4 linked regions of the Homo sapiens genome follow. The protein of the gene in region 1 interacts with the protein of each later gene in a pairwise test. Each region holds a gene or a part of one and is shown on either strand. Other genes may lie near its edges.

The links.
Region 2: the proteins of TMEM9 (region 1) and EMP1 interact in binary tests that used the Homo sapiens proteins (3 or more experiments, as listed by UniProt).
Region 3: the proteins of TMEM9 (region 1) and GALNT6 interact in a two-hybrid assay, tested with the Homo sapiens proteins (one large-scale study listed by BioGRID and IntAct).
Region 4: the proteins of TMEM9 (region 1) and TMEM230 interact in a two-hybrid assay, tested with the Homo sapiens proteins (one large-scale study listed by IntAct).

The regions. Positions count from the first base shown.
Region 1 is NC_000001.11:201,147,768-201,155,480, reverse strand, and holds the start of TMEM9 (proton-transporting V-type ATPase complex assembly regulator TMEM9 isoform a precursor), read left to right. Parts: upstream 1-1,006; 5' UTR 1,007-1,557; coding exon 1,558-1,623; coding exon of another isoform or gene 1,624-1,698; intron 1,699-3,628; coding exon 3,629-3,720; intron 3,721-7,713. UniProt on the Homo sapiens protein: Transmembrane protein that binds to and facilitates the assembly of lysosomal proton-transporting V-type ATPase (v-ATPase), resulting in enhanced lysosomal acidification and trafficking.
Region 2 is NC_000012.12:13,206,013-13,213,725, forward strand, and holds part of EMP1 (epithelial membrane protein 1), read left to right. Parts: intron 1-5,456; 5' UTR 5,457-5,498; coding exon 5,499-5,576; intron 5,577-7,466; coding exon 7,467-7,563; intron 7,564-7,668; coding exon 7,669-7,713.
Region 3 is NC_000012.12:51,378,714-51,386,426, reverse strand, and holds part of GALNT6 (polypeptide N-acetylgalactosaminyltransferase 6), read left to right. Parts: intron 1-2,844; exon of another isoform or gene 2,845-2,966; intron 2,967-3,917; exon of another isoform or gene 3,918-4,114; intron 4,115-6,542; 5' UTR 6,543-6,645; coding exon 6,646-7,136; intron 7,137-7,713. UniProt on the Homo sapiens protein: Catalyzes the initial reaction in O-linked oligosaccharide biosynthesis, the transfer of an N-acetyl-D-galactosamine residue to a serine or threonine residue on the protein receptor. May participate in synthesis of oncofetal fibronectin.
Region 4 is NC_000020.11:5,103,319-5,111,031, reverse strand, and holds part of TMEM230 (transmembrane protein 230), read left to right. Parts: intron 1-1,586; coding exon of another isoform or gene 1,587-1,601; coding exon 1,602-1,700; intron 1,701-4,721; coding exon 4,722-4,844; intron 4,845-7,713.

The sequences.
Region 1 (7,713 bases):
GAGGAACACAAACTCAGTGGCCTCCAGATAAGTGCCCACCTCAGTTCACAGGGCCTGCGAGGGGCTTGATTCCACCTGGACCCAGCCCCTATGCTAATCCAGCCACCAACCTCAAGTTTGGGCCATATTGATACCCCTCCCACCCACCCCTAAGGAATCCCAACATATCAAAGCTGAAGGGGATCTTAGAATCCAACCGAATCATTTTACAGATAAGGGAAGTAAGGGAAGCTGAGGCCCAGAGAAGGGAGGTATCTTTTCCAGGCTAACACAGCTGCTTAGGGGGAGCGCCAGGGCCAAAGCCCCGGTGTCCTCACTCCGGGTCTGGTGCCCTGAATTCATATGACTCCCCTTTCCTTCACAGCTGGCAAGAAGTTCACATCTGCCACATAGCAGCCAGGGACCCTCACCCCTGCATCCTGGCCATGCACACTTTGCCCCATTTTGCCAGGCCCAGCACCAGCATGGGGTAGGGGGATCAGGCTGAGGACGCTGTTGTGCACACTCTTCACAGGCCCAGCCCACACCACCCATCGCCAACCCTAGATTTCTCCTTCTCAGAGGTGTGTGTAGGGGTAGAGACGTTGCCGCGCAGAAAGTCTTCTGCAGCAAAGACGTGGATCCCTAAATAACATTTCCAGATTTTGAATGAGGACAAAGCCCTTCAATCTCGTATCGTTTTTGTTGACGTTACTAGCTTACAGTGTATAAAGCGCTTTCTTTCTAAAACAGCAAGATGAAACAAGCTGAGTTTTATAATACAAGGAAGGGAGAAGCACCGCAGTGGGAGTTCTCAGGCCACACAAAGGCAAGACCCTTCCCCAGGAGTTTGGAAGGCTGACGTTCCCTTTTCTGGTTTGGTCGGGTTTGAGAAATGCCCGCCTCTCCCTTGCGCAAGAGTCTCCCCGCCCAGGTGAAGGCGGGTCTTGTTGCCATGGCGACAGCGCGGTCGGGTTAAGGGGCTGCTCTGGCAACCAATAGAAGCTAGGAGAGGGCGGGGACAACTGGGTCTTTTGCGGCTGCAGCGGGCTTGTAGGTTCGTGGACGCGGCATTGGGGGAGGGGACGGGGGTCGCGGGGCTATTGGGGGTCCCAGTCCGGCTTAAGACCTCTGGGCGTGGTGGGCACCGGCCTTCGCCGTCGGAGCAGGGGTCCCAGACTCGCACCCAAAAGTTCCCGTCGGGCCCGAGCGGGGAGGAGCTGCGGGGCGGGCAGAGGCGGAGATGGCGGAGGGCGGTGGGACGTGATGCGCGGGTCAGAGCCGGGCCTTGAGAAGGAACTGGAGGCCCCTGGCAGCGGTGTCCCCTCGAGGACCCCTCTGCCGGGCTCACCAGGTGGCTGGCGGAGAGCCGGAGAGTTGGGCGGGAGGGAAGCAGGGTTTGGCGACCAGGTTTAGCAGGCCTTGGAATCCTGGAGCCCAGCCCCCAACCCCATTCCCACTTGGCCGGATGGTTAAGGGCCTAGCGTGCTGGCTGCGGTGTGGCCACCTTCCCCTTCTCCGACTCCGTATCTCTTTTTCCAGGTGTCCGGCTTTGCTGGCCCAGCAAGCCTGATAAGCATGAAGCTCTTATCTTTGGTGGCTGTGGTCGGGTGTTTGCTGGTGCCCCCAGCTGAAGCCAACAAGGTGAGGGAGGTGAGCCTGCAGCACCTGGTCACGACCACAGTGCACGGCCACCCTGTCTACAGGGCTGACTCAGAGGTAGCCAGCTGCTCCTTAAGCCTGCCTCTCACTCACCTATGGGCCATACTTCTTTTAGTGGTCTTCCTTCAGGTTCAAGGCTGCTGGCCTCCCTAAGGATAGTGCGGGTGAGGAGTGAGGAAGGGTGGGGCACAGAGCACTGGCTCACTCTGATCAGACAGATCAGTGGTGGACTTCCAGCAAGGAAGTTTGGAGAAGTTATCTAAGTTCTCCATACCTTCCTTTGCTTTGGACCAAAGTATGTTTTGTTTCAGATATTTTTGGATTTGGGAGTATTTGCACATAAAAAATGAGCTATCTTGGGGAGGGGACCTAAGTCTAAACCTGAAGTTCGTTTATGTTTCATATATGCTGTATATACATAGCCCGAAGGTAATTTTATACAATATTTTCAATAATTGTGTGCATGAAACAAAGTTTATCTACACTGAACCATCAGAAAGCAAAGGCGTCACTATCTCAGGCACCCATGTGGATAGTCTGGTTGGTTGGCATCACCACCATTCCTGACAATGAATTTATATGCTACCGATAAATATTTTCTTACGTTACACATAAGTTCTTAACGGTAAAAAAATATGATGTACTATTAACACAGTGAAAATAAATGATGTGTTCAGGGTAACTAAGCACAGTAGCATCACCAGAATACCTGTATCAGCTGTTAGACACAGCAACATAAGGCTTTCTGTCTCCTGCTGTGATGCTGTGTTTTGATTAAAGGTTACTGTGCACAGTATTTTTTTAGGTGAGAAGTAGTATCTGAAGCAGTAGAGGGACCAGAAAGTGGGTCCTCTAGAGATGAGGAGGCATTCTGCCAGATGGCTTTTAAAAATGTTTTTGCCAGTCACCTGATTCATTAACAAGCTTTTGTCTTAGAAGTCTCTTTGATTTTATAGACTGACACGATTTCTTGTTCTGTTATGAATGCGCTCTGCTATAGTCTTTCAAGAAGCCCGTCACTCATTGTTACCATGTCTGTAGGTGCTTTTCTGCAATGTTAACATCATCTTTGTGGTCATGTCTGTGCTTAACAAGTTTTAGATTGGGAGCATTTCGAATTTTTGTTTTAGGGGTGCTAGTACTACCACCTGTAGTAGCAGTTGTATCTATTACTCTGCTTAGGGAGAATCAAATTACATGACAATGTAAAAATGCCCTGTAAGTGTAAAGTCCTATACAGTTTGAAGTTTCCATTATTAAGGGTGACCCACCTAAGTTCTGGGACTCCTGAGATAACTTCCATTCTTTATTGCTACATTCCTGTGGAGCTGTTTGGGTAGATCTATGGAACTAAAGATCATCCAGACTTTGAAGTAAGGTTAAGGCTGAGAGTTTGTTTCCATTCTCTCCTCAGAAATCCTAATTAGTAAAGACATTTATGGTGATATCTCTTACTCATTCCAGAAGGGAAGAACTTTCAAAGGGGTTGCTTGAGTATTCCCACAGAAATGATCCACTTTTTCTTATTCACCCTCGCCCTTTATGTTTCCCCAATCCTACCTAAGAAGTTGGAGAAGGAATGTGGGGAAGAGGGTGGCTGCCAAGTCCACTGGACAGAGGTGCACACACAAGTGTGGGGTCTGGGGTAGAGGACACACACACACACACACACACACACCCATTTCCCCTCATCCCTCTCCCCGCATTCCTCTAAGTACCTGCTTTGGGACTGGCAGGCCTAGACAACTTTCTGTGAGTCTCATTTGCCATCTGGACATTTTTCTATCTTTAGGACCCGGTGCTGCAGCTTGCTTCCTACAGTGGCAGTCCTTGCTGGATTTGAACTTGGGGATGGAGAAAGCTCAAGAGCATAGATATGGTTCACCTAACAGGATGGGGAACAGAAAGTTGACAACCTTGCTAGAGCCTGAACCCCCTGAACCCCAGGCAGGGTCTCTGCATACTTGACATGTGCTTTCTTTTCCAGAGTTCTGAAGATATCCGGTGCAAATGCATCTGTCCACCTTATAGAAACATCAGTGGGCACATTTACAACCAGAATGTATCCCAGAAGGACTGGTAAGGCATTACACGCAGGCCCCTGGCTGCTATACCCAGTTGAAGTTATGGGTGTTTACTAGAGTTCTTGGACCCTGGAGGATAAGCATGCTCTCCCATTCCTATGGAGAGCCTTTCAAAGGAGTAATTATTCATGTCACAGAACCAATTTCATAGTTGTCAACTGTCTGTGGAAACAGGATCCAGGTGTCTGAATTCCAGCTGAGTGGTCCCTGGCTAGAGGAGTGGATTTTGTTGTTTTGCTTTGAATATTGGTCTTTAGTGATGCATACAGAATAGTAGTAGAGAAGTTGGCAAAGGTAGGTATTCTGACCACATGCTGTAGGATACCTAATGCTTTTGCAAAGCTGTGTTACATGTGTTATTCTGTGCCAGTCTTATAGCATCCTTGTAAAGTAGGTGGGATGGATTTTGCTCCCATTTTATAATAGCAGAGACAGAGGCCCAAAGAAATAATTTAGAGTGTTGAATTCATTTCTGGGTACCTCACTTTTAAAAAGAGAAGAATAACCCAGAATTCATTCAGAGAAAGGAGACTAGTGCGGTGAAGGGAAGTTTTAGCACATTGTCCTGGAAGGAATGGTTTAAGGAAGCAAGGAAAGCCTAAAGAGGAGAGGACTTGGGGACACACGATGATTGATTGAAAGCTGGCATGTTATGGGAGGTGGGACATGTGGGAGCAGGTACTGGTGTGGATCAGTTATGTTCAGTGGGGTTTCTTGGTGTAGAGTTGGGGCCAAGGATAAAAGCTTCAGGGAAACCGACTTAAGCATGAGTTGAGGGAGCATTTCTAATCTAGGCAGTTTTGGGAGCCAGGAAGCTCCGTTCTTGGAGGGCCCCGAGCACAGATGGGCTGAGGTCACTGTAGAAGAGATCAACATCAGATGAGAGGTCCGGGTCAGTGCTGCCTCTCCTGCTTTCTCAAAGCAGATGAGCTTTGAGAAAATACACATTTCCAGTACCACCACCACTGCTCGATTTTGATTCTTCAAATACGGAGTGAGGGTGAGGGGAGGCAGTAACCTTTCTTTCCTTTGGTGCTTAGGATGCAGTTGATCCAGAGCAACACTCGAGAATTTTGAAACTAGTTGAATTTCCAACTCTGAGACTGTCGGTGATTTTCTGAGAGGCAGTCTAGTTAGATAGACAGACTCTGTGTTCCACCTTCCTGACTTCAAATTTAGCTTAGCTGCTTGTTAATTGTGTGACAAATTACTTAATCTCCACTGCACTTTGATTTCCTTATCTATAAATAGTGGCAGTATTTTCTGTGTTAAGTATGTACGTGTTTGTGTGTGTGTTGTGCGTGTATGTGCACAGGTCAGTAACTATAGCACTTAGAACAATACCTGGCACACAGTAAATGCTTATATAAATGTTAGCTGATATTAATGTATATTATCATGCCTTACTGGTGGCCACATAGATAGTCATGGTCAAACTTACACCACAGACTGAGAAAATGGGCTCCTCCTGAAGCACTAGCCTTCTACTTAGGAGAATTCCAAGTAACCCCCTTGTATCTTGTGGTTATAGTTCAAATAGCATCAGTAAAAACTTAGATGGGCTGTCTTAGCCCTTCACCAGATAACAAGGCTATATCCCAAACTCCTTATGCAGGCAGACACTTGCAAATTTAGGAACACTCTCTCTGTCCTGGAGCTATAGATGGCCTGAAAACCCAAGGTTGGATGCCTGCAGAGGACGGAGTCCTGTCTAGACCTCTCAGGCTGTAGTTTATCTCCTTCTTCCCCTCAGAAGTCAGAATTAAGGGGCTGCTTGATGAATAGCCTTACATCAGGAACCTCAGGGCAGCTCCATTAAGGGTGGTGGGTGTAAACTGAGGCTGGAGGAAAGACTCCAGGATTCTAGGACCCAGTGACACTGACCTTGACTGGGAGTCATCCTGTGCTTGCCTGGAGCCTCTTAAGGGTAGGGTGGGGCCTTGACATTGATCTGAGTACCTCAGTGCTAGGGTTAGAGGAGGCCAGTTTGAGTGGGTCTTCTGGTCTCTGCCACATTTTCACTTTGCTGTCACGTTGGTCCATGCTAAAGAACACTTGCACCCTTCTCCTTGGTTGTGCAGAGTAAAGCCAGAATCATCTGACATGCGGTCCTCAGGTTTAATGGCCAAGCCATGTATGTTCCTGTGTTTACAGGTATCCTGCCACCTAGTGTTGAGAGATTATGACCATATGTGCATAAAAAGGCAAAAACCCCAGCTTTGCCCCATTGGTGGGTCCGGCAAGGAGATGTGTTATTAGAGACACTCCCAGAGCAGGAAAGCACTGAATAAGTTGGCTAGTTCCTTGCCTTTCAAACTTGTTAAAATAGAACTTCTCTGCAAACAAAATCCGTTTTGGAAACAAAATCTATAAAACATAAAAGTCGGAATTGCTCTGCCTGAGAGGGAACTGTCCCTCAGCCCCTCCCTGACTACCACCCCACCGTACAGTGGTTCCTGTGGGTCCCAAAAGAGTACAGTTTGAAAGACACTGACCAAGTTCAGTCTCCATTTATAAATGAGGGAACCGAGGCCTGGAGAAGTTAAATAAATTGCCCCCAATCACAGGAGAGTTGGAGACAGCAGAACTATTTCAGCTCCTTATTGCTGTTCCCCTGGGTAGCAAGATCCCACATTGAAGAACTCAGGTCGCCCTTCCAAACTGCCCCTGACACCTTGGCCTTGTGAGAAATCCATAGATTCCACTGCAATACTGGTATGACCTTCTAGACCCAGGACCCAGTGTAGCTCAGGTAAGGGAGGAATCTGGAGGCTTGTAGAGACTTCCTGGAGAAGGGAAGATGGCATTGCCTCTGGACAGGAATGGCAGCCAAGTGCCCTGGGTGACCCTTTTTCCGCTGCTCCCAGCGGAAGCAGCATGCAAGGCCTGAAAGCAGTACTTCCGGTTACAACAGGGGAGACCTGCTCAGAGCAGGGAATAACATGTTGGACACAGAGGTGGAACTGGATCATGAAAGGTTTAGATAAACTCATGTATGCCACATATGGCTTTTTGGGAGAACAGAGTCCTTTAGAGCACATCCCATTCTTAATCCAACACATGGTCTTTATATCACACACCCTTGATGCTTCTGCCAGAAACCCAGCCCTGTAGCTCAGAAGGGAGCTATGCTTGACTCTTGCAGGACTCCTGTCAGAGCTGGAAGGGCCTTTTAAAGATTATCCGGTGCAACCGCTTTATCTCAAAGAGAAGAGAACGGGCCCAGGGTATAGACACTTGGTGGCAGAGCCAGGACAGAGCCCAGGTGCATTGCAGCATGACACCTGCTTCACCTCTGCACACCTCCAAGGGGTTTGGATTTTTCCATTGGTAGTAATGAAGGTGCATTCTGTAGAGTTTTTTGCTTTGTCAGTGTGGTCCCTGAACCAAACAGGTTGGAACCATGCTGATCTGAGGAAGGCTGGGAATGAGAGGCCTGAGACAAGCCAGGTACCAGCCCAGGCCCCACTGAGGCTGAGTCAGAAGTAAAGACCTGTGGCTGAGGGTCTAGATTTGGGTTCTGGCCTCACTACCACTATGGAGATGCCACTTTGCCTCCTAAGCCTCTTTCCCTGTTTTTAGATGTGGAACCTATGATCTTTATCCCACCTTACGCAAGAGTGCTGTTAGATGAAAGTGGGTCTACTCTTCCTTTGGGAATCATGTAGTTACTAAGCCTGCTCTGGCCAGCACCCAGCTAGGTACTGGGAATATGGAGATGTATAAGACATAACCCTGTGTTCAAGGAACGTACATCTCCTGGGGAGACAGCACGAATAAAGATTGGATTACAATGCAGTGCATTGGCGGGGGGTTGGGGGGAGCTGGCTATTGGGCACAGGTGGCTAAGCTGAGAGTTAAAAGATGAGGTGGCAAAGCCATGCCCTCCTGGTGAGAGTGTGGGTGTGGCTCCTTCAGAGAGCAGCCTGGCAGATCCGTGTGGCTGGAGGTTGGGAAAGTGGGTGAGGGAGGCGTAGCAAGAGATGGA
Region 2 (7,713 bases), on another chromosome or scaffold:
AGATATGTTAGAGGGGAGTTGTTCAGAGACAGGGTCATGGGTGAGGCTGATGCCATGGTCAGGCTAGGACCTGAACTGGACAGTAGCAATGGGAATAGAACATAAGGAAGGATGTGAGATAAGTAATGGAGGTAGAAACTCAGGGTAGGACTGTGATGTTTTGGGCAACAAAAGTGGAATGAGGGGAAGGGAAGATAGGACATTTGGCAGTGGTCATTACTGCTCTTTTCTCCCCAGAAAAATCCTGGCCTTTCTTAAGCTGCCAGGGAAATGCCAGCCAGATCCATACCCTGCTTCTCAGAAAGCTCTCTCGTGCCCTTTTGTAGAGAAGGTCTCCATGATGCCTTTCATTCTGGGAGAATCTCACCCACTCTCAAATGAATCATGGAAATTTGAGCCCTGAGGGCCTCCCCCAGTGTTTGCATCGTCTTCAGCTCCTGATTTCTGAGCATGCTCCCCTCCCACCCCTCAGCTAGGGCTAATTCTTCAGTGACTCAAGCCCCAGGATTTTGACCACTTCCTTCACTGGGGAAGTGGGTTTTTGGTTGCTCTATTCTATTGTGTTGCTCCCAGTTATTGTGTTTTAGGTCACTCTTAAAGAATTGCTGCTGCCGCCAGGCCCCATGGCAGTTCAGTGAACACACAGACTTCTGGACAGGAAGAAGTTATCTGACTCCTAGGTTAGCAATCAGGGAACCAAATTATGCACCTCTAAACTTCCCTTCTGGTCCTTAGAAGTCAATTCTTCTCAAAGTCTCTGCAGATTTAGTTACCCACCAGAAAAGGAAAGGCTCCCATGGGGGCCTGAGTAATTTCTCACTGGTCAGAGAACCCTAAAAGTGTTAGGCTGCCTGAACAAAGGCAACAAGGCAATGCATGGCAGTCTCAGGGCTGTGTTCCTTTGATTCTTTCATTTGTGTGTGTGTGTGTGTGTGTGTGTGTGTGTGTGTGGTGTGTAAGAGGGAGGCAAGAAGCCAATAAAGATTTAAATGGATGGAGATAACTTGAGAGGTTTGGTTATCCCTCTTTCCCTTCCCTCATGTCTCATATTAGTTAGTCCTTTAGAGCTATAGTCACGAGCAATTTTAATCCTCAGGGTTCTATTTTATTTTATTTTGAGACGGAGTCTTGCTCTGTTGCCCAGGCTGGAGTGCAATGGAGCGATCTTGGCTTTTTGCAACCTCCGCCTCCCTGGTTCAAGTGATTCTCCTGCCTCAGCCTCCCCAGTAGCTGGGACTACAGGTGTGCACCACCACGCCCGGCTAATTTCTTGTATTTTTAATTGATACTAGGTTTCACCACGTTAGCCAGGATGATCTCGAACTCCCTCAGGGTTATTTCTACTGACTATATTAGCTATTCTGTTAGCTAAGAACTTTATCTGAATACTGAATGGTCAGTGTTTGTGAGGTTTGCATTAGAGCTAGGAGCACAAAGACACCTCTGCTCTAGTGTGGTCTGGGCAATGCAGAAAGAAAAGGAGGAACAGTGATCAGAAACAAAAGATGGTGGTCAGAGGTAGGGAACTGCAAGCCTGTCCGTTAGGGCAGAAAGAAGAACAGAAAAGGGATATCAGAGACCTGTGTGTGGCTCCGAGGTGCTGATCTCCATTTCTCTTAATAATACTTCTCTCCAGAGTCAACATACATGGGTCCTATACCTTCCTCAGTTTCCCACCCAGCCCCTAACTGCCCCTGTGCCATGTATGTTAGGTAGATGAGGCTTAAGAAGGAGATCATCCTCCACTCACAGTGGTGGGTACAGAAATGTGTTCCTGGCATCCACATAGAAGTCAGTGGACGGCCTGTTCTTTAAAAATGCAATGAATTGATAAGCTCTGCTGGCCTAGGTCTGGGAGTCTAAGCACCACAAATGAACGCTGTTATGAGCGTTCCCCTACAACTTTGGAACTGCTCAGTGCACCAAATGCTCTGCAAAAAGCGGGTCTTGCTTCAAAGTATTCAGAATTGCAATGCTGTGATTCTCTGCATCTTGGTTTGCGCTGCCTCACTAGGACTAGGGGTATGCTTTCCACTGGAGAGTGCCACCCATATCATTTTAGAGAGGGCTGAGGGAGAAGTCTACTATTGTTTTAGTGAAACACACTGCTAAGAAATAAGTAGTAGCCACCAATACTTCCAATGGTATAAATTCTCATAAATGGTATTTTTTTCAGTGCCTTTGTATGAAGCAAGATTCACAATGGGGCAGAGAATGAATCTCCCCACAAGCTACCTTGCAAGTAATGGGTGGGTGGAAGTTTCAGGAGCAGGGGTTCTTCTGTTTATTATACTCTGCTATTTGATAAATGCCCAGACATTTACCCATTAGTTACCACTAATGGCTTTTTCATAAAGACCTCAGTGATCGCCTCCTCCCAGACTGAGGGTTTCCCTGGGGGCAGGAGGTATCTAGCACAGTGTAAAGACTGGGTAACTAGGGATGATTCAGCCCAGAAACTCAAGAAGATAACTCATTCTGTTTTCACCTGTGTTGGGGGGAAGGCCATTGAAAATAATGGAAGCCCCTCTAAACTGACAGTGAATGATATTAGTAAAACCTGACAAATAATGGGCCAGTGAAAAGATGGAGAAGTTGTAGCTTAAGCTAAACAGCCCCTCCTTCTGGCTGGATACAGCAGCTAAAAACAGAGAGAACTGTGTGTTTTGCACAAGACCGCTTGCTAACTCAAGACATTTTGCTTCTTTCCGTGGTGAAAAGACAGGGAGGGCACCATCACAAAAATCTAAGATGAAAGAGAGTCGCTCTTTTGCTTGATTCTCACATCCATTCTTCCAGCCTGCAATGGGCAGGGCATATGGTCAGGTGGATCCAGGGGCCAGGCACTCGCACACACCACCAGGGCTGTGATGCATGGGCCCAGGTAGAGGTGCCGTGGGAGGGGTCATTGAGACAGAGAGTGTGAGCTGGGCAGAGGAAATCAGACTTGACTTTAGGGGTTACAGAGCAACCCAAGGAGACAAAATGCTGCTGAATTCCCAACAGCCTATCAGGGAGGGAATGTTTTCTGTGACTCATTTAAGTGGCCTCACTTGGTGGATTATATTCTGTCATTGGCCCCTCCAGCCCTTCCCCCTTTTAAGAAGAGGATGTTTGTAAATTAGAAGCAACAGGAACAAGAAAGTCATTTGAAGAGCCCGAGGAGGATTAAACATAAGTATTCGTTATGTAATATTTGTAATTCCCTGCAATCAGCCTGTTCCTTTCCCCATAGGGGGCAAGGAGATCAGGATCTGGTGAGGTGTGAATCTTGGGAGGTATGAGGAAGTTGGGCTGAGAAAGTGAACTTTCTCCTGGTCTTTCCTGAGGGTGTGCTCTTAGAGGTCTCCCCCCTTAAGGGGCAAGGGTTAGACAAATGACAATTTCTAAGAGGACCGAAAGGATTGTATACACCCTGCCTCGTGAACTAGACAGCAGATATCTTATTACTTGCACTTAACATGGGGCAGCCTAGCGATTGAGTAACTGGGTTGGGTTGGCAACAGCTACCCGGCTTCACTTATGAATAATAGTAATAATAATAACCGCAGCTAAAGCAACCCCATTATTAGTAGCTGCCATGTGTCAGACACTAGGTGTTTTACATAAACAATCTGAATTCATCCTCACATTTCCCTTTGCAATTGACATTGCGACTTCCACTTTCTAAATGAGGAAACAGATGAGCGGTCAAATAACTGGATATGATTCTAATTCATCCTCTGTCTGATTCAAAAATCTCTTTTTACTGTGCATTTAAGTCAAGCAGAAAATTGGGGAGGTGTGCTAGAACCTGAGAAAAGCAAAAATGAATTTGAATGTGTGGGGGGATTACTAATAGCAGACATGAAAGCTCCAACCTCTCCCCTGAAGAGGCAGGATAAACGTCATAATTTTTGCATTCACAGTTAAGTTGGACACATTCCTAAAAAACAGCCTGGGTTGGAAGGAAGTGGCCAGATTGGGAAGGGGCTGTTGGAGACGGTCAGGGAGAATGGTGGAAGCCATTGTCTGCCTCTCATTCCTTGCTTGCAGAGAGCAAGGCACCCTGATGTATATTAGATCACTCTAGATTTTTGGTTGCCTGATAAAGACAGTGAGAGGAGATAAAAGGCATGTGAAGTGTTGGAATTATAGTATCAGTGCTCTCTAATAAATACCTGATGTGGCATGAAAGTGCCTCAAGCACATTCAAAGCATCAATTAAATTAGGTGGAGTGAGAGAGGGCAGTGGAACAATTGCAGGATGCGCCTGGCCATCTCCTCCCTTGGTTGGGGCATCCACACATCCATTCTGTCTAGGGTGTGAATAACCTCAAGCCCTTTCCTTTTGATGTCCCTCTGAGCCTGCACTGCTTTGTGACAGTCTTAGGCATGACAAAGCTCTCCTTCTGTAGCTGACATAAATCAGAATAGCCTCCCCCATGTGTATCCTTCACACTTCCTTTATTTCCTAGGCTTTATGATCAATGGGCTCCCTTCTCTGCTGTGATTATGGCTGAAAGCTTTTGTTTATCCATGCACATTCTTAATCGATATTAGTTCCCAATCCTCCCACCCTGTGATTTATGCATTTGCCTGTCTTCTGTATTGAGTCCTGAAGGATTGGAATTTGTGTAAATGTCATGTACAAGGAGAAGGCACATTTGGTGCTATCTCAAGTTGCATTACTTTTAAAGCCCCCAGAACCATCACATTGAGCTGTGGAAAATATGACTCTCTGCCCAGACCAATGGCAGGCTTCCTGCCATGAGGCACACAGAGCCCAAAGGCTCAGGTGTAGTAATACTAGTCTGAAATGCTCAGTCACAGGGTGACCAGACCATTAAACTGTAATTAGGTTGTTATAATTATTGAAAACCAAACAGCATTATAATAATAGAATTGTGCCTCTCACATTTTATATCTCGCCCAGGATCATATTAGTAGCCTATTCAGTATATGGGCATTGAGTAATAGCTGCTATTCTTCAGAAGGCATTTACTTCTATTAAAAGTGCTGGGTGAGCAATTTGATGAAAGCATGGACATTTTCCTAGTGGAAAATGGACATTTATATGACATTGTTCAGAGACCTGGAAATTATAAAGGCCTACTTCTTTGAAAATCAAAGTCCTATTTTTAACCTCTAAAACACAAACAAAATAAAATACGAACAGTTATCATAAAATGTTCTTGTTCCTTTTTTGAAATAGAATGTATTAGAGAAATGAATATGTAAATACCCAAGAAGAAACCAAATTCTGTTTCCATGTAGGTATGTATAACTGGATGAATAGGCACTTAGGCAAATCAGAACTAGGTTACAGGGGTGTTTTCAGGAATTTATGATTAGATTGTGATGGTTTTTAGTGCAGCTCTTCCTCATGTTAGCAGATAGCCCACACGTGTGGGAAAGCTGAGTCGTCTTATTGAATCTGACAGTAACCGTTTTTGTCCCTTTCTTTTTCTTTTCAGAACTCTCTTTGCTCACAAGTTACCAAAAAAAAAAGAGCCAACATGTTGGTATTGCTGGCTGGTATCTTTGTGGTCCACATCGCTACTGTTATTATGCTATTTGTTAGCACCATTGCCAATGTGAGTAATGTTCTTTTGTTCATTCATTCATTGAGAAATCATTCGAATATTTACATCAAGTGCACAAAAGAAGTTTAAGCCACAGCCCTTGCCCTTCATGAACTTACAGCTCAGTTGTGGGAAAACAAAATAAACACACGCTTGCCCTTCAAACAATTAAATAACAGGAGGATAAAAGTGAATGTCCACAGGAGTAATCCTGCCAGAGCTGTAGGTGGTTAAGGGCTGGAGGATCTAGTGCAGCTTCTTCGGTCTCTAGAAGAGCCTTCCCAGCAGCAGGGGTGAGTGGAGCTTGAGGTGAACCTGGAGGAGTGGTAGATGGCTGAGGTTTCTCTTAGTGAAAGAGGGAAGGTGGAAGGATCATAGGGATGCATTCAGGTGGGAGTGCTAGCAAAGGAGCATATGTAGGAAGGACAAGCTTTGGTCAGAGGATAAGGAGGACACACACCTATGTGGCTGGAGCCGAACTTCCCCTCCTTCTGAGAAGCTTGATTAGAAGGATAGATGGGAAGAAGAGGATGCCAGACTGACAAATTCAAATTTTGAGCAAAGAGTAGCATGTGAAAGTGGAGTTTTGCAAGATTAACCCAGTGCCACTGAATTAACTAACTCAGACAAAACGAGAAAAAAAAAATGGAGGTAGTGTCTTTTCTCTCTGAACCCTGGGCTACTCTGACCTCTAGTGGTGGCTTACAGCGCCCAATTTGCTTTTACTTGTGCTTTTCTCAGAAAAAAGCCAGCTCCTTGGACCTAAAAACCAAGGCCACCAATCACTAGGCAGGCAAACCATGGTTTCAGAATCTGTTTAGGTCCCTATCACAGTTAAAGTATAAGTGAGTTTTAAAGTTCAGATAGAAGAGCTTTGCAAACATTAGTGGGTGTGATCATAAGCAAGGCTAATTAAGAATAACTGTGATAAGACAACCCCCGCCCACGTGACCTCCTTGTTTTGTAATTTAGCCATTCTATATGTCAACTCCTATATCTATCCAGATAAATCTGATAAGCTTCTTCAAAGTGTATTAATGAGCGCCAAAGCGCTGCGTATCTGTGAATTACCAGCCCCTAATATAAGGCTAGGCACACAGTTGTTTATTGAATGAAGAGCAGGGATTGGCGTAGGTGATGCATGTTCCCGGCCCCACCTTTCCAGTGTGTGCATTTGTGTGTGTGTAGACAGGACACTGCACTTGTTTTCTCTTCCAGAAGGATAATTCCTTTTCTTGGGCCAGGCAGGAAGGGATGGCGGCACCATGATCAGTCTGGGGGAATCCATTCAGGTCACCCTTCAGCTTTTAGTAGCCCCTACAGGAAAGCACTTGCTGTAGTATTTTACTATCAAATTACTTTGCATGTTGTGACAGTCAAGTTTGATCCTTCTGTTTAGATGAAAGTGGCTTATTAACCACTAGATTCATTGTTATTTTCCCAGTAGGTCTTATGTTTCTTAATTGTTTCCAGTTGGACATTTCACTTTTTTCCTGGTTAACCAGGGACTTAAATGAAACAATCTTGTTAGAGTATATGAACTGCACATACCTAAGCCAGTTTCCTCATCCTGGACTTCTGTTTCTCAGAACCTTAGAATTTTAAACCACTGTGGTTGAGTTACTTCCATTTTTGTTAAGTCGTGAAGAATGTGGAGCCCAAAGAGGGCTAGGTGATTTCTTTCTGGGTTTCACATTCTTCTGTGTCTCTTCTCTTGGCAACTTTGTGAACTTCAGTTTTAATCGGACCTTATTTCCGCCCACAGATAAGCTGCATAGCCATAGTTATAGCTAAATAGAATGTCTTTATTAAAATCTGATCCCGATGCAAGCTGATTTGTTATTTTATTTTTAAATCAGAGGGCCAGCTTTCAATTAACATTTTCTTTCCTTCTGGTTTCAGGTCTGGTTGGTTTCCAATACGGTAGATGCATCAGTAGGTCTTTGGAAAAACTGTACCAACATTAGCTGCAGTGACAGCCTGTCATATGCCAGTGAAGGTATATATAAAGATATTGACCCAGTGCTGACAATAGGTGTGGTCAGGGAATGTTCAGCCCCTGGAGTGACCTCATGCCCTTGTTCTCCTCGTCCTGTGTCTACAGATGCCCTCAAGACAGTGCAGGCCTTCATGATTCTCTCTATCATCT
Region 3 (7,713 bases), on another chromosome or scaffold:
TTTAAAGCATTTGTATCCTTGAGTGGGAGGAAGGCAAATGCCAGGAAGGGGATCAAAGGGTGGAGTCGGGGAGGCTCAGGGAGGACAGGCCTGGTCCCCAAATTCCCTACTCAACCTCCACGGGTATGAGTGTGGTAAACAGAGTAGTGGTCTAGGAGTTGAGAGATCGGGTTCTACTCCTGGGAGCCACTAGCTGTGTGTTGCTAGAGAAGTCACCTAACCATTCTGGCCTCGCCGTTGATAAAATGAGGGTGTTAGACCCACAGACAGACCTAGTCAAAACAGCAAGCTAATGTGTAATGGCAGAATATCCTGTAAGTCAAGTATTTCTTGCAGTAAGTTCATTCAGAACATCATTTAGTGAAGCCAGTGCTCCACATTTAACCCTTCCAACCTCATCTCATTTAACAAGAGTTTGTGGAACTAGCCAGGCCTGATGGCACGCACCTCTGTATTCCCAGCTACTCAGGAGGCTGAGATAGGAGGATTGTTTGAGCCTGGGAGGTCGAGGCTGCAGAAAGCTGTGTTCATGCCACTACACTTCAGCCTGGGTGACAGAGTGAGACCCTGTCTCCAAGAGAAAAAAAAAAAGTTTATGGAACACCTGCTATATGTAAAACTTGTGCTAGACTTTGTAGGTGATAAAAAGCTGGAAATGGCATGGCCTCTCTGGTCCAGGAGTCCATAAACACAGGGTGGGCTGTGATGAGACTGGAGTACAAATAAAAATCGGGTGCTAAGGGGGCAAAGCAGGGAAGAGATGAATTCTGCTGGGAGATCTGAGAAGGCTTTTTGGAGGGGGGCTAGAATATAAACTGTGGGGTTTGGACTGTGTCACTGGCTTTCAAACTTCTATGACTTGACCAAAGTGAGAAATATACTTTATAGCGAGACCCGGTACCTGTGTATATGTGACAGGGCATCCCAAAAATCTTAGGGCAGTTTTATAATTTAATCACATTACAAGCATAAATTCTGCAAACCATAAAAACTATCATTTGAAAATGGAATCATTTAAACTTCTTTTGTCTTTAGTTGTATGAATTTTGAATAACAAATTTATCATTTTAATTTTGTATCAGGCAGTGTGTATCTTTAATAGACTGAAACAAACATTAAAATAAAAGTTTACTTTTCAGGCTGGACATGATGGCTCACACCTGTAATCCCAGCACTTTGGGAGGTCAAGGCAGGAGGATTGCTTCGGCCTAGGAGTTGAAGACCAGCCTGGGCAGCATAGTGAGACCCCCATCTCTACCAAAAAATAAAAATTAGCCGGTCTTGATGACACACACCTATGGTCCCAGCTACTCCAGAGGCTGAGGTAGGAGGATCCTTTGAGCCCAGGAGGTCAAGGCTGCAGTGAGCTGAGATTGCACCACTGCACTCCAGCTTAAGGAACAGAATGAGACCCTGTCTCCAAAAAAAAAGAAAGAAAGAAAAAACGAATACTTGCCTGTGTTACATGTGATACATGATGCACTTTGATATTTTCTTTTCATTCTATTCTGGGTTTTTAAAATTTATTTATTTTTATTTTTTGAGACAGGGTCTCGCTCTATTGCCTAGGTTGTAGTGCAGTGGCATGATCATAACTAACTACAGCCTCAACCTCCTGGGCTCAAGCAATCCTCCAGCATCAGCCTCTCAAGTAGCTGAGATTACAGGCCTATGCCACCACACCCAGCTAACTGGTCTCTTTTTGCTAATTGGTCTTTTTTTTTTTTTTTTTTTTGAGACAGAGTCTTGCTCTGTCACCCAGGCTGGAGTACGGTGGTGCTATTTCTGCTTACTGCAACCTCCAGCTCCTAGGTTCAATCAACTCTCCTGCCTCTGTCTCCTGAGTAGTTGGGATTACAGGCACATGCCACCATGCCTGGCTAATTTTTGTATTTTTAGTAGAGAAGGGGTTTCACCATGTTGGCCAGGTTGGTCTTGAACTCCTGGCCTAAAGTGATCTGCCCACCATGGCCTCCCAAAGTGCTGGGATTTCAGGTGTGAGCCACTGTGCCTGGTCCTAACTGGTCTTTTAAAGAAATTTTTGAATGCTAATTTGCAACACTCTGAATTTATTTTATAATATCACAGTGGATTGTAATCAGCAGTTTGATACAAGCTGGGCTGGGTAAAGCCTCAGTTCCTTACACCAGTGAGAGAAGGTAAGTTTGTGTTCTGGCCGGTGGGGCCAGGGAAGCAAATCCCATTTGTTCAATCTAGGCAGGCTTTTCAGAGAGGATTTCTGGCATCATCTCGGGATCAAAGCCAAGGATGGTCCAAAGAGTTGCAGGCCCAAGGGTAGCTGGAGGAAAAAGACTTGGGAAGAAGTGCTGAGCCACAGCGAGAGGGAAATGAGTGGATGGGGGCTGCGGGCACACTTGCCAGGAAAGCAGGAGGCCAGGTGTGGGAGCCCAAAGGTGAGGGAGATATACAAGACACCAGGGGCGGATCTCGTGAAGCTTTGTACTTGAAACAATAGCAAAGAATAGCAGCTATTCTTTCTCCAAGGCTGGTGGAGGGGCGACCTCCACGACCTTGCTAACCATACTTCTGGGAATCATCTCCTACACAGGGAGCAGAAATCCTTAACCCCAAAGTCCTGTGGCTTGCACTAGATTCTGTGTCTCTTCTAAGGGACTCTTCCTGTTGCCCTCATGCTAAGCAAACAAACTAGAGAATGAGTGCCTCACCACCAAGGCTAATCCCAGGTGTCTCATTTCGGTTCAGGATGTGGTTAGTACCTTGAGGAACTGTAGGTTTGAGAGAGAAAGCTTCAGGCAGCCAGATGGGATTGAGAGATTAGATGCCTAGGAAGAGCTCAATTTAACCCTATATTTCTTTCTCCAGGGAAAATAAAAGAAGCAAAAACAGGCCCTGCTGTGAGGGACCACGAGGCAGTGCCAGGATGAAAGAGTTGGAGTAACCTAGGTGATTCTGAGTGAATCAGTCAGGAGGCCTTCCTGGAGGGGGTGAGTCTTGAGCACTGGCAACAGTTAGTAACTACAATCTTACCATGCCTTTGTTTCTAACTGTGCTCCCTCTTTCTTGCTGGAGTGGGAAGGTAGATGGAAAGTAGCAGGGAAGACGAAGCCTGCAGGACGGTTCAAAGCTGTCATGGCAAACACTCCCCCATTCTGCAGGCCTCTGTGTGGGCTTAGCCGGGACAGTTCCAGAACTGATGAGGTGTCTAGCTCAAGCAAATCCCCCTGTGCTAGCCCCAGCATAGCTCAACCTCTGTGACAAGAAACTCCTGCTACACTGAATCCCCATTTCCTCCCCGAAGCCTTCCTCAAACCCACAGGGAACTCTACCTCTCTCAGCTTAGCTCTTACTGTCTGTGCTATTCTGCTTTAATTTTATTCATTTTTGAATAAGTAATATAGTCAGGGTTCAAAGTACAAAAGAGTATTCAGTGAAAGGTCCTTTTCCTGCTCCTGAATCTCCCCTGGTCAGGTGCTTCCTTCACCTGGTCAGTGCTATCAGTTCTCGTTCTCCAATAAGATTTTCAAATCCCTTGGGGAAAGGAATTGAGCCTTTGTGTCCCTCTGTGTACCAGACGGGGTAAACTGTCCCACCCCATCACCCAAGGGGGTCTTCCTAGGCACCATACCCTCCCTCTTCCATCCACACTGCTACTAACTCTCCTGGGTCAGACTCCGAATGGGTCATCCAGCTGCCAAGCAGGTCCCTTTCCAAGATACCCTCCACCGCTGTCATATTGCTCTTCCTGTAATGCTGGGCTCCCAGCTTAACGCTTTATTACTCCCCATGCCTTGGGTCAAGGGCAAATGCTCCTCAGCATGATGAACAAGGCCCTTAGGACTTGGTTTCAGCCACCTCTGTAGGCCCAATTTCTGCTACTCCTGCCATACCAGACTGCTTACAGTTCTGTGACTGGCTCTTCTGTCTCCCACCTCTAGACCATTGCAGGTACTGTGCCTTCTGCCTGAAATGTGCTCACCTCGCCTCGCTGACTCCTACTCGCCAGTTAGTGTTCGGCCCATTTCTGCCCCCGTGAGATTTCTTCACAGATGTTGCCCTCCCCCATTTGCTGAGTTTCCTGCATGCCGGCTCCTTCAGCACTCAAGGGTACCTCTTTGATTCTGCTTCTCACAGGGTAATCTCTGTTTAAAATCTGATGCCCCCAATTGACTGTAGGATCCTTGAGGGCTGGCCTTGCACTTCTCTGTGTCCCCCGCCTCTTGCAGAGTACCTGGTAGAGGCAGTTATTCAGTAAATACTGGTGGAATAAACAAATCTCTCCTATCTCCTAGACAATAGTTAATACAAAATAGATGCTCAAAGAGATTTCTTTTGTTTGATTTTTGACGGTGCTGCTGAATCTGATGTTATAAAAGAAGCCACATTTGTACCCCAGTCCAGAATGAATCCACCTCCCCACTTGAGATCACGATGGCCACATACTCCCAAGGTCTCAGACACCAGGCCTCTCCACAGGCAGGAGCTTGTGCGTTTAAACAATAGCATTAAATAGTACAACCAGAGTTATTTTTAAGCAAAACATGCAGGGAGTAATGAACGTGGCTTTGGCCAAGGGCCAGGTGCTTGAGGATAACTGCTGGGAAGTGAAGCAGGGATTTATCATAATAATAGAAATAGTTGATACCATTTATTGAGGGCTTAGTGTGACAGGTGCTCTGCCAAACATTTTACCTACATTATCTGATTTAATCCTCCCCACAACCCTGTGAGTTAGGTATTAGTTGCCCCCACTTTATAGATGAGGAAATTGAGGCTTAGAGGGATTAAGTAAATTACCCAAGGGTCACACAGCTGCTAATGATCAAAACTAACACTTTGTGGGAACTTACCATGTGCAGAGACTGCTAAGCTTTGTCCATGAATTTTGTGGGGAAGGAGCATAATCCTTGTAACAACCCTAGGAGGTAGGTGCTACTACTAGAAGAGGAAGAACTGGAATTTGTGCCCAGGTCCCTTGCCATTGATGTCTAGTGCTTAACCAGTGAGCTTATGTGTCCAGAACTCTGCACAGAAAGTTCTGCAAGCATTCATCCTCTAGGGCATGGATCCACATGCCTGGGGGTGGAGCCTGGTGAACGCCCATGCCCAGCCCTGCCGGGAATGTCTTGTCATGAAATCTTAGGTTTCTGTTAAATTCTTTTTTATTAAATAGGAGTAGATTACAGATAACTTTTATTTATTTATTTTTAAAGACAGAATCTCTCTCTCGCCCATGCTGAAGAGCAATGGTGCGATTATAGCTCACTGCAGCCTTAACCTCCTGGGCTCCAGCAGTCCTCCTGCTTCAGCCTCCCAGGCAGCTAGGACTACAGGTGTGCACCACTACGCCTCGCTAATTTTTAAAATTTTTTATTGAGATGGGCTCTCAATACGTTGAGCAGACTGGTCTTGAACTCCTGGGCCCAAGCGATCCTCCCACCTCAGCCTCCCAAAGTGCTGGGATTACACCATGCTTGGCCAAGAAATATTTATAAAATACGTATAGGGTCTAAAGAATTACAGTCCACCAGCAGCCGCCATCCACTTTGAGAAAAAAACACTTTGAAGTCCCCCATTAACCATCTCTAATCCTGTACCGTTTTCTTCATCTTCAGAAACTGGTTATGTCATTTCTTTAGCTTTCTTTTTTTCGTGGGGAGACGGAGTCTTGCTCTGTTGCCCAGGCTGGAGTGCAGTGGCATGATCCTAGCCTACTGCAACCTCTGCCTCCCGGGTTCAAGTGACTCTCCTGCCTCAGCCTCCCAAGTAGCTGGGATTACAGGCATGCGCTACCACGCCCAGCTAATTTTTGTATTTTTAGTAGAGACAGGGTTTCACCATGTTGGCCAGGCTAGTCTTCTTTAGCTTTCTTTATAGCTTTATCACATATTTGTATTCAAGAACAAGATATTGTTTAATTTTAGCATGTTTTTACATTTTCTATAAGTGGAATCATACTGTATGTATCCTTTTGTCACTTGCTTTTTTCACCCAACAACACATCCACATTGTTGCATGGAGAAGTGGTTCATTCTTGGTCATCACTGTAGAGCACTGCACGGTATGGGTATTTTGCACTTTATTTATTCATTCTGCTAGTGGACTTAAAGGTTTTACCAGTTTGTTGCCATTTAAGTCAGTGTTGGCTTAAATGTTCTTGTACATACCTCTTGGTTTGCATCTACCAGAGTTTGTCTGGGATATAAAATGAGGAGTGGAATTGCTGGCTCAGGCTGTGTTCATTTCAAATTTTTCTTGATAATACCAAGTTGTTTCCCAAAGCCATAATGATTAAATCTCATGAGTTTAATGATTAAATCTCATGTAGTGTTTCAGTGTTCCAGTGACTCTAGATCCATGCATATTAGGATCTTAGGGCAGGAAAGAAACACTGCCTCCGGTCTCCTCATTTTATGGATGAAGGAAATGTAGATATGGGAAAGTTGTGGCCAATAAGGTGATGCCACCACTCAGCAACAGAGCCTGGCCTCGAACCCCAAGCACCCGACTCCCTCCTTACCCTGTGTTGGCTCACTTCTCTCTCTTGTCCCCTCCTTTCTCAGGCTGAGGCCCCAGCTTGTGGCCACCACAACGTATCAAGCTATCTCCAGGGTTGGGCTCAGGACTCAGAGCTGACGCAGCTGGGGTGCCCCTTGGTTCTGGAGGATGAGGCTCCTCCGCAGACGCCACATGCCCCTGCGCCTGGCCATGGTGGGCTGCGCCTTTGTGCTCTTCCTCTTCCTCCTGCATAGGGATGTGAGCAGCAGAGAGGAGGCCACAGAGAAGCCGTGGCTGAAGTCCCTGGTGAGCCGGAAGGATCACGTCCTGGACCTCATGCTGGAGGCCATGAACAACCTTAGAGATTCAATGCCCAAGCTCCAAATCAGGGCTCCAGAAGCCCAGCAGACTCTGTTCTCCATAAACCAGTCCTGCCTCCCTGGGTTCTATACCCCAGCTGAACTGAAGCCCTTCTGGGAACGGCCACCACAGGACCCCAATGCCCCTGGGGCAGATGGAAAAGCATTTCAGAAGAGCAAGTGGACCCCCCTGGAGACCCAGGAAAAGGAAGAAGGCTATAAGAAGCACTGTTTCAATGCCTTTGCCAGCGACCGGATCTCCCTGCAGAGGTCCCTGGGGCCAGACACCCGACCACCTGAGTAAGTAGCACCCAGAGTCCTTGTGGGGAGACCAGGGCTTTGCTAAAGGCATGGCTAGTATGGCCAGGGCCATAGATCAAGGGCCAGAGAAAGAGTTGAAGGGAATTTTATAATATGGGCAAGGATCTCCTCTATGCCTCACTTCTTTCCCAGAACAACTGTGCTGATCCCAGGGGTTGTGATTCAAGGGTATTATGGTCAGGCCAGAGGCCCAGGGAGACCTGTGAGAGTGAAATGCAATTATGAAAGTGAGATGATGTGGAAGAAGGAACTCAGCCTGGCACCAGGACCTGGCACGGGGTGACTGGGGAGACCTGATACCAAGCTGTGGTTTCAGTAGCTTTCTCCTCTACTGAGGCCTGCTCCAGAGACTGTGGGACTCTAATGCTGAGCTGTTTGGGGGGGGGGTGGGCATTTCTTAACAGCAACCCTGGTGGTTAGGAATATCCTCACACCTGGTTTCCTCCAGTGAAGGCCCACAAGGCCGGAATTGATTCCAACCTTTATCTGAAGTTGTTTATAGCCTCAATCTTGCACAATGAGATCTCACTTAGATCTTTGAGTGGCAGCCCCCTCC
Region 4 (7,713 bases), on another chromosome or scaffold:
TTTTGTAGTTTTAGTAGAAATGGGGTTTCACCATGTTGGCCAAGCTGGTCTCGAATTCCTGACCTCAGGTAACCCACCCACCTCAGCCTCCCAAAGTTCTGGGATTACAGGCGTGAGCTATCACGCCCGGCCTATTAATACAAATGGTCTTAATTTAAATGTTATGATTTTTCAAACTTACCCACTGTCTCTTAAACTAGTGACATAATAGCCATGATTTCATTACTGCTGTCTGCTTTGAATATTTTGAACAAGAAGCCAGGTTGTTATTCCATTTTTTTCTTTCTTTCTTTAAAATTTTTTGTAAGATATTATACCATATTCCGTTTCTTAAGGTTGGTACAGAAGTAATTAGGAAAATGAAATCACTACTTTCAGTGCTTGGGATGGGACAGAGAGGTGGGCGCTTCTGGAGGCACTAGTATAGCCAGGCCTGTATCCAAATTTACAAGGGGCCCGGCACAGTGGCCTGTAATCCCAGCACTTTGGAAGGCTGAGTTGGGCAGAACACTTGAGGTCAGAAGTTCGAGACCAGCCTGGCCAACGTGGTAAAACCCCATCTCTACTAAAAATGCAAAAATTAGCCAGGCGTGGTGGCACACGCCTGTAATCCCAGCTACTCAGGAGGCTGAGGCAGGAGGATTGCTTGAACCCAGGAGGCAGAGGCAGCAGTGAATGGAGATTGCGCCACTGCACTCCATCCTGGACAGCAAAGTGAGACTATCGCAAAGAAAAAAAAAAAAACTGAGTTCAAGACCAGCCCGGCCACCATGGTGAAAACCAGTTCGTTACTTAAAAAATACAAAAATTAACTAGGCATGGTGGTGCATGGCTATAATCCCAACTACTCGGGAGGCTGAGGCAGGAGAATCGTTTGAACCTGGGAGGCGGTGGTTGTAGTGAGCTGAGATCAACCCACTGCACTCTAGCCTGTGTGACAAAGCAAGACACCGTCTCCAAAAAATACAAACAAACAACAACAACAAAAAAACCCCACAAATTTACGGCAAGAAACTTTACAGATCTTTTGCATTAAAAGGTTGATCTCTATCAAGGGGAAATAGGCAAAATGCTGATGTGAGTGTATTCCATTCTCTGCCCTCTTCTCCCTCCCTGTCAAACAAGAGAATCATTTGAGTATATGCTCCTCTTGCTTTTTCTTAAGAGCGGGAGCAGGGGACAGGCAATGCTGTGGTGTCAGGTGGACCTAGATTTAAGTCCCCATTATTCTACCTAGTCTCTATGTGACTTTGGAAAAATTAAAAGTCAGGGAATCTTGGTGGCAAAATAAACTGGAATGTGATTCTTGGTGAGTGTCTTCACTGTCATTCTACAAGGACAGACCAGACTAGATATTTAATACATAGTGAGAATCTTTTCACTGTGTCAGAGGCATATCTGGTTTTCCATATGCATATGCCTCTGACACAATGAAAATTTAGCAGTGAAGTGTAAATTGCCCATTGCTAGTCTGACATGGCAGCCCAGAACTCCAGTGCACAGCATCTAATAATCCTGAACTCATTGGCTATAATGCACCATTGTCATCTACAGACAATAACGGGTTTTTTGTTTTTAAACTGTAGCTGTGTCAGCGTGTTATGATGCCGTCCCGTACCAACCTGGCTACTGGAATCCCCAGTAGTAAAGTGAAATATTCAAGGCTCTCCAGCACAGACGATGGCTACATTGACCTTCAGGTAAATGCAGAAGAGAACTGACAAGACTGACTGGCTGTGTTTCTGTTAAGTTAGCAGGAAGACCTTCCAGATGGAGATTTTGCTAACTGTCCTTGGGGATTAGAAGGAGCAACAAGAAGAAAACTCAGCTCTGAGACCCTTTCAGCCATAATCGCAGAAGAGGGCCGTGGCAGGGTAGTTTCAAACCAATTCCAGTATTGTCCATTTCTAAGAATTTTTAGTTGTAATGCGAGAGCCTTGTAGTTACAGGTTTTATTTACTTTATTCAGAAACTAATCAGATTGTGTTTTGTTAAGTGGAGTTTTTTGTTGTTGTTTCTTTTTTTAAGGAACTTTAAAATTTTTGTTAGGTGGAATTTTTTTTATCACTGTTTATTTACACTTTAGTCAAAGCCCGTTCACCTTTTAAGGGAGAAACTTATTACTAAAGCCAGCAGATTGTGGGAATCTTCCTTCTTTCCTGATGTCATGAGATCCAATTTATTAAAGGTATTCTTTGTGATAAATAGTAAGTAAAACACAGTATTTATTAAGTTTGTATCCTACCCTAACCATTTATAAACTAGTCAATACTACAGCATCTCCTTTTGCACACTTCCCCTTACAATAGAATGTTCTACGTGGAACTAGGGCCAACGAGGAAGTAGCAGGAAACCATCCTTTATAAATAAATAAATTACTCTTTGGACCCACATTTGAAGGAGAGATAAAAATAGATCTGGAAAGATCTGGGAAGCTTCCAGCCACTTAGGTCAGATACAACGATGAGCCAAACCTTGGAAAATTTGTCTCTGAATCTTAACCTTGAATTGAATTTGTTCATAAGGCAGGTTTACTTGCTATGTGGAACAAACAACTAATCATTTGGAATAAGCTGAAATTGCCTTCTTTTCCTTTTTTTTTTTTTTTTTTGGAGACGGAGTTTTAGTCTTGTTTCCCAGGCTGGAGTGCAGTGGCACAACCTCGGCTCACTGCAACCTCTGCCTCCCAGGTTCAAGCGATTCTCCTGCCTCAGCCTCCCAAGTAGCTGGGATTACGGGCATGCGCCACCACGCCCAGCTAATTTTGTATTTTTAGTAGAGACAGTGTTTCTCCATGTTGGTCAGGCTGGTCTTGAACTCCTGACCTCAGGTGATCATCCTGCCTCGGCCTCGCAAAGTGCTGGGATTATAGGCGTGAGCCACCTTGCCCAGCCTCTTGTTTTGTTTTGTTTTGTTTTTAAGATGTAGTCTTGCTCTGTTGCCCAGGCTGGACTGCAGTGGTGCAATCCTGGCTCACTGCAACCTCCCCCTCCTGGTTCAAGTGATTCTTGTACCTCAGCCTCCCTAGTAGCTGGGGGATTACAGGCATGCACCACCATGCCTGGCCAATTTTCGTATTTTTAGTATAGATGGGGTTTCGCCATGTTGGCCAGGCTGGTCTCGAACTCTTAACCTCCAGTGATTCACCCACTTCGGCCTCCCAAAGCGCTGGAATTACAGGCGTGAGTCACCGCGCCCAGCCTTTTTTTTTTTTTTTTGAGACAGGGTCTTGCTCTTTTGCCCAGGCTTGGGTACAGTGGCACAATCAAGACTCACTGTAACCTTGACCTTCTGGGCTCAAGTAGTCTTTTCACCTCAGCCTCCTGAATAGCTGGGACCACAAGCATGTGCCACCACACCCAGCTAATTTTAAAATTTTTTGTAGAGACAGGATCTCTTAAATCCCCATAAGTTAGTACAGCCATCTATGTGCCAGGCAGTTAATAAATATATATCTAACAAATGAATGACTGTAAAGTCATTTCTGTTTTTGTTTTAAAGAAAAGTTTCTTATGATACAATGAATGATTTATGGAATGAGATTCGAACTAGAGTGAATGACATTCCTCTGAGATTCCTTTGAGTAACTGTGAGAGCAATAACTAGAGCTTCATCTCTTGCCAGTCCCTTTTATTTCTCAGAGCTGCACTGGGTGGTAGGACATACTTAAGACACATAAAGTATCTAGTTTGGTTCTTAATTACCCTCCTGTTTTTGCTGTTGTTGTATTTGAAACAGGCTCTGGCTCTGTCACCCAGGCTGGAGTGCAGTGGTGCAATCTCAGCTCGCTGCCTCTTCACCTCCTGGGCTCAAGCCATCCTCCCAGCTTAGCGTCCCAAGTAGCCGGGACTGCAGGCACATGCCACCACGCCCGGCTAATTTTTGTATTTTTTGTAGAGACGAGGTTTCACCATGTTGCTCAGGCTGGTCTCAAACTCCTGAACTCAAGTGATCCGCCTGCCTCAGCCTCCCACATTGCTGGGATTACAGGTGCGAGCTCTCCTCCCTGTTTTAAAGTGTTTGAGACTGGGCTTGATGGCTTATACCTGTAATCCCAGCACTTTGGGAGGCAGAGGTGGAAGGACTCCCTTGAGCCCAGGAGTTGGAGACCACCCTGGGCAACATAGTGAGACCTCGTCTCTACAGAAAAATTTAAAAATTAGCTGGGCATGGTGACGTATACTTGTAGTCCCAGCTACTTGAGAGGATGAGGCAAGAGAATTGCTTGAGCCCAGGAGTTCGAGGCTGCAATGAGCTGTAATTGCACCACTGCACTCCAGCCTGGGTGATAGAGCAAGACTCCGTCTCTAAAATCATAAAAATTAGGCCGGGCGCGGTGGCTCACGCCTGTAATGCCAGCACTTTGGGAGGCCGAGGCGGGCGGATCACCTGAGGTCAGGAGTTCAAGCCCAGCCAGGTCAACAAGGTGAAACCCTGTCTCTACTAAAAATACCAAAAAAATTAGCTGGGTGTAGTGGCGGGCACCTGTAACCCCAGCTGCTCAGGAGGCTGAGACAGGAGAATCACTTGAATCCAGGAGGCAGAGGTTGCAGTGAGCCAAGATCACGCCATTGCTCTCTAGCCTGGGCAACAAGAACGAAACTCCATCTCAAAACAAACAAACAAAAACATAAAAATTACAAATAATTAATTAAATGTTTGAACCCAGGTATTTGCATTAATGTTCTTCGTTGTCTTTTTCATCTCTATTTCTCTTCCAGTTTAAGAAAACCCCTCCTAAGATCCCTTATAAGGCCATCGCACTTGCCACTGTGCTGTTTTTGATTGGCGCCTTTCTCATTATTATAGGCTCCCTCCTGCTGTCAGGCTACATCAGCAAAGGGGTAAGCTGACGGGCATGTGGGAATAAGTTGTGAGATTTTTAAAATGTTAGCCAAGGCTCTAGTGTGCGTGTGTGTGTGTGTGTGTGTGTGTGTGTGTGTGTGTGTGTGTTTGTCCGTCCCAGTGGTCTGTTTTTTTTGAGACAGGGTCTTGCTCTGTCATCCAAGCTAGAGTGCAGTGGCACAACCTTTACCTCCCTGGGCTCAAGCGATCCTCTCACCTCAGCCTCCCGAGTAGCTGGGACTACACGTGTGTGCCACCACACCCAGCTAATTTTATTTTTTATTTACTTATTTTTGTTTGTTTTATTTTGTGTAGAGACAGGGTTTCACTATGTTGCCCAGGCTGATCTCTAACTCCTGAGGTCAAGCAGTCTGCCTGCCTCAGCCTTCCAAAGTGCTGGGATTGCAGGTGTGAACCATTGCCCCTGGCCAATTTTTTTTCCAATTTTTATGGGTACATAGTAGGTGTATATACTTAGGGGATACATGAGGTATTTTGATACAGCCATGCATTCATAATAATCACATCAGGCTAAATGGGGTATCCATCCCCTCAAGCATTCATCATTTGTATTACATTCCAATTATACTTTTATTTATTTATTTATTTTGAGACAGAGTCAGGCTGGAGTGCAGTGGCATAATATCGGCTAACTGCAACCTCCGCCTCCCAGGTTCATGCTATTCTTGTGCCTCAGCCTCCCGAGTAGCTGGAATTACAGACGTGCGCCACCGCACCCGGCTAATGTTGGTATTTTTAGTAGAGATGGGGTTTCGCCATGTTGCCCAGGCTGGCCTCCCAAAGTGTTGGGATTACAGGCATGAACCACTGTGCCTGGCCTATTTTTAGTTATATATATACATATACACATACATACATACATACATATATATATATTTTGGAGACAGAGTCTTGTTCTGTCACCCAGGCTGGAGTGCAGTGGCAGGATCTCAGCTCACTGCAAACTCCGGCTCGTGGGTTCAAGTGATTCTCCTGCCTCAGCCTCCTGAGTTAGCTGGGACTATGGTGGCAAGCCAGCACACTTGGCTTATTTTTGTATTTTTAGTAGAGATGGGTTTTTGCCATGTTGGCCAGGCTGGTCATGAACTCCTGACCTCAAGCGGCCTGCCCGCGTGGGCCTCCTAAAGTGCTGGGATTACAGGCGTGAGCTACCACGTCCAGCCTTAGTTATTATATTTTTAAATGTACAATAAATTATTCTCTAGTCACTTTGTGCTATCAAATACTAGAGCTTATTCATTCTATGTAACTATATTTTGTACCCGTTAACCTTCCCCATTCCCCCCTACCTTTCCCAGCCTTTGGTAACCATCATTCTACAATATCCATGAGTTCAATTGTTTTAATTTTTAGTTCCCGCAAATGAGTGAGAACATGGAAAGTGTGTCTTTCTGTGCCTGGCTTAATTTCACTTAACATAACGTTCTCCAGTTTCATCCATGTTGTTGCAAGTGACAGGATCTCATTCTTTTTAGTGGCTGAATAGTACTCCATTGCATATATGTACCATATTTTCTTTATTCACTTGTCTGTTGAAGAACACTTTGGTTGCTTCCAGATCTTGGCTGTTGTGAATAGTGCTGTCATAAATATGGAAGTGCAGATACCTCTTTGATAAACTGATTTCCTTTCTTTTGGGTATATACCTAGCTGTGATTGCTGGATCATATGGTAGTTCTATTTCATACTGTTCTCCATAGTGGCTATACTAATTTACATTCCCATCAACATTGTACGAGGGTTCCCTTTTCTCCACGTCCTCGCTAGCATTCGTTATTGCCGTTTTTTTTGGATAAAAGCCATTTTGGCTGGGTGCAGTGGCTCACGCCTGTAGTCCCAGCACTTTTGGAGGCCGAGGCAGGAGGATCACTTGAGCCCAGGAGTTCGAGACCAGCCTGCGCAACATAGCGAGACCTTGTGTCTATATTTTTTAAAAAGCCATTTTAACTAGGATGAGATGATATCTCATTGTAGTCTTGATTTGCATTTCTTTGATCAATGATGTTAAGCACCTTTTCATATACCTATTTGCCATTTGTATGTCTTCTTTTGAGAAATGCCCATTTTTGATTGGATTATTAGATTTTTTTTCCTACAGAGTTTGAGCTCCTTATATATTCTGGTTATTAATTCCTTGTCAGATGGATACTTTGCATATATTTTTTCCCATTCTGTGGGTTGTCTCTTCCTTTGCTGTACAGAAGCTTTTTAACCGGATGTGATCTCATTTATCTGTTTTTGTTTTGGTTGCTTGTGCTTTTGGGGGCATTACTCAAGAAATCTTTGCCCAGTCCAGCATCCTGGAGAGTTTCCCCCATGTTTTCTTATAGTAGTTTCATAGTTTTAGGTCTTACATTTAAGTGTTTAATCCATTCTCATTTGATTTTTGTATATGTCAAGAGATTTGAGGGGTCTAGTTTCATTCTTCAGCATATGGATATCCAGTTTTCCTAATACCATTTATTGAAAAGACTGGTTCTTTCCCCAGTGTATGTTTTTTTGTTTTTTGGTTTTTTTGTTTGTTTTTTTTTTTTTGAGACAGAATCTCACTGTGTCATCCAGGCTGGAGTGCAGTGGCACCATCTCGGCTCACTGCAACCTCAGCCTCCCAAATAACTGGGACCACAGGCATGTGCCACCACACTTGGTTAATTTTTTTTTCATTTTTTGTATAGATGAGGTTTTGCCGTGTTGCCCAGGCTGATCTCGAACTCCTAGACTCAAGCAGTCCAGGAGTACAGTGGTGTGATCACAGCTCTCTGCAACCTCAATCTTCAGGGCTCAGTCGATCCTCCCACCTCAGCTTCCCAAGTAGCTGGAGTTACAGGTGTGAGTCACCATACCTAG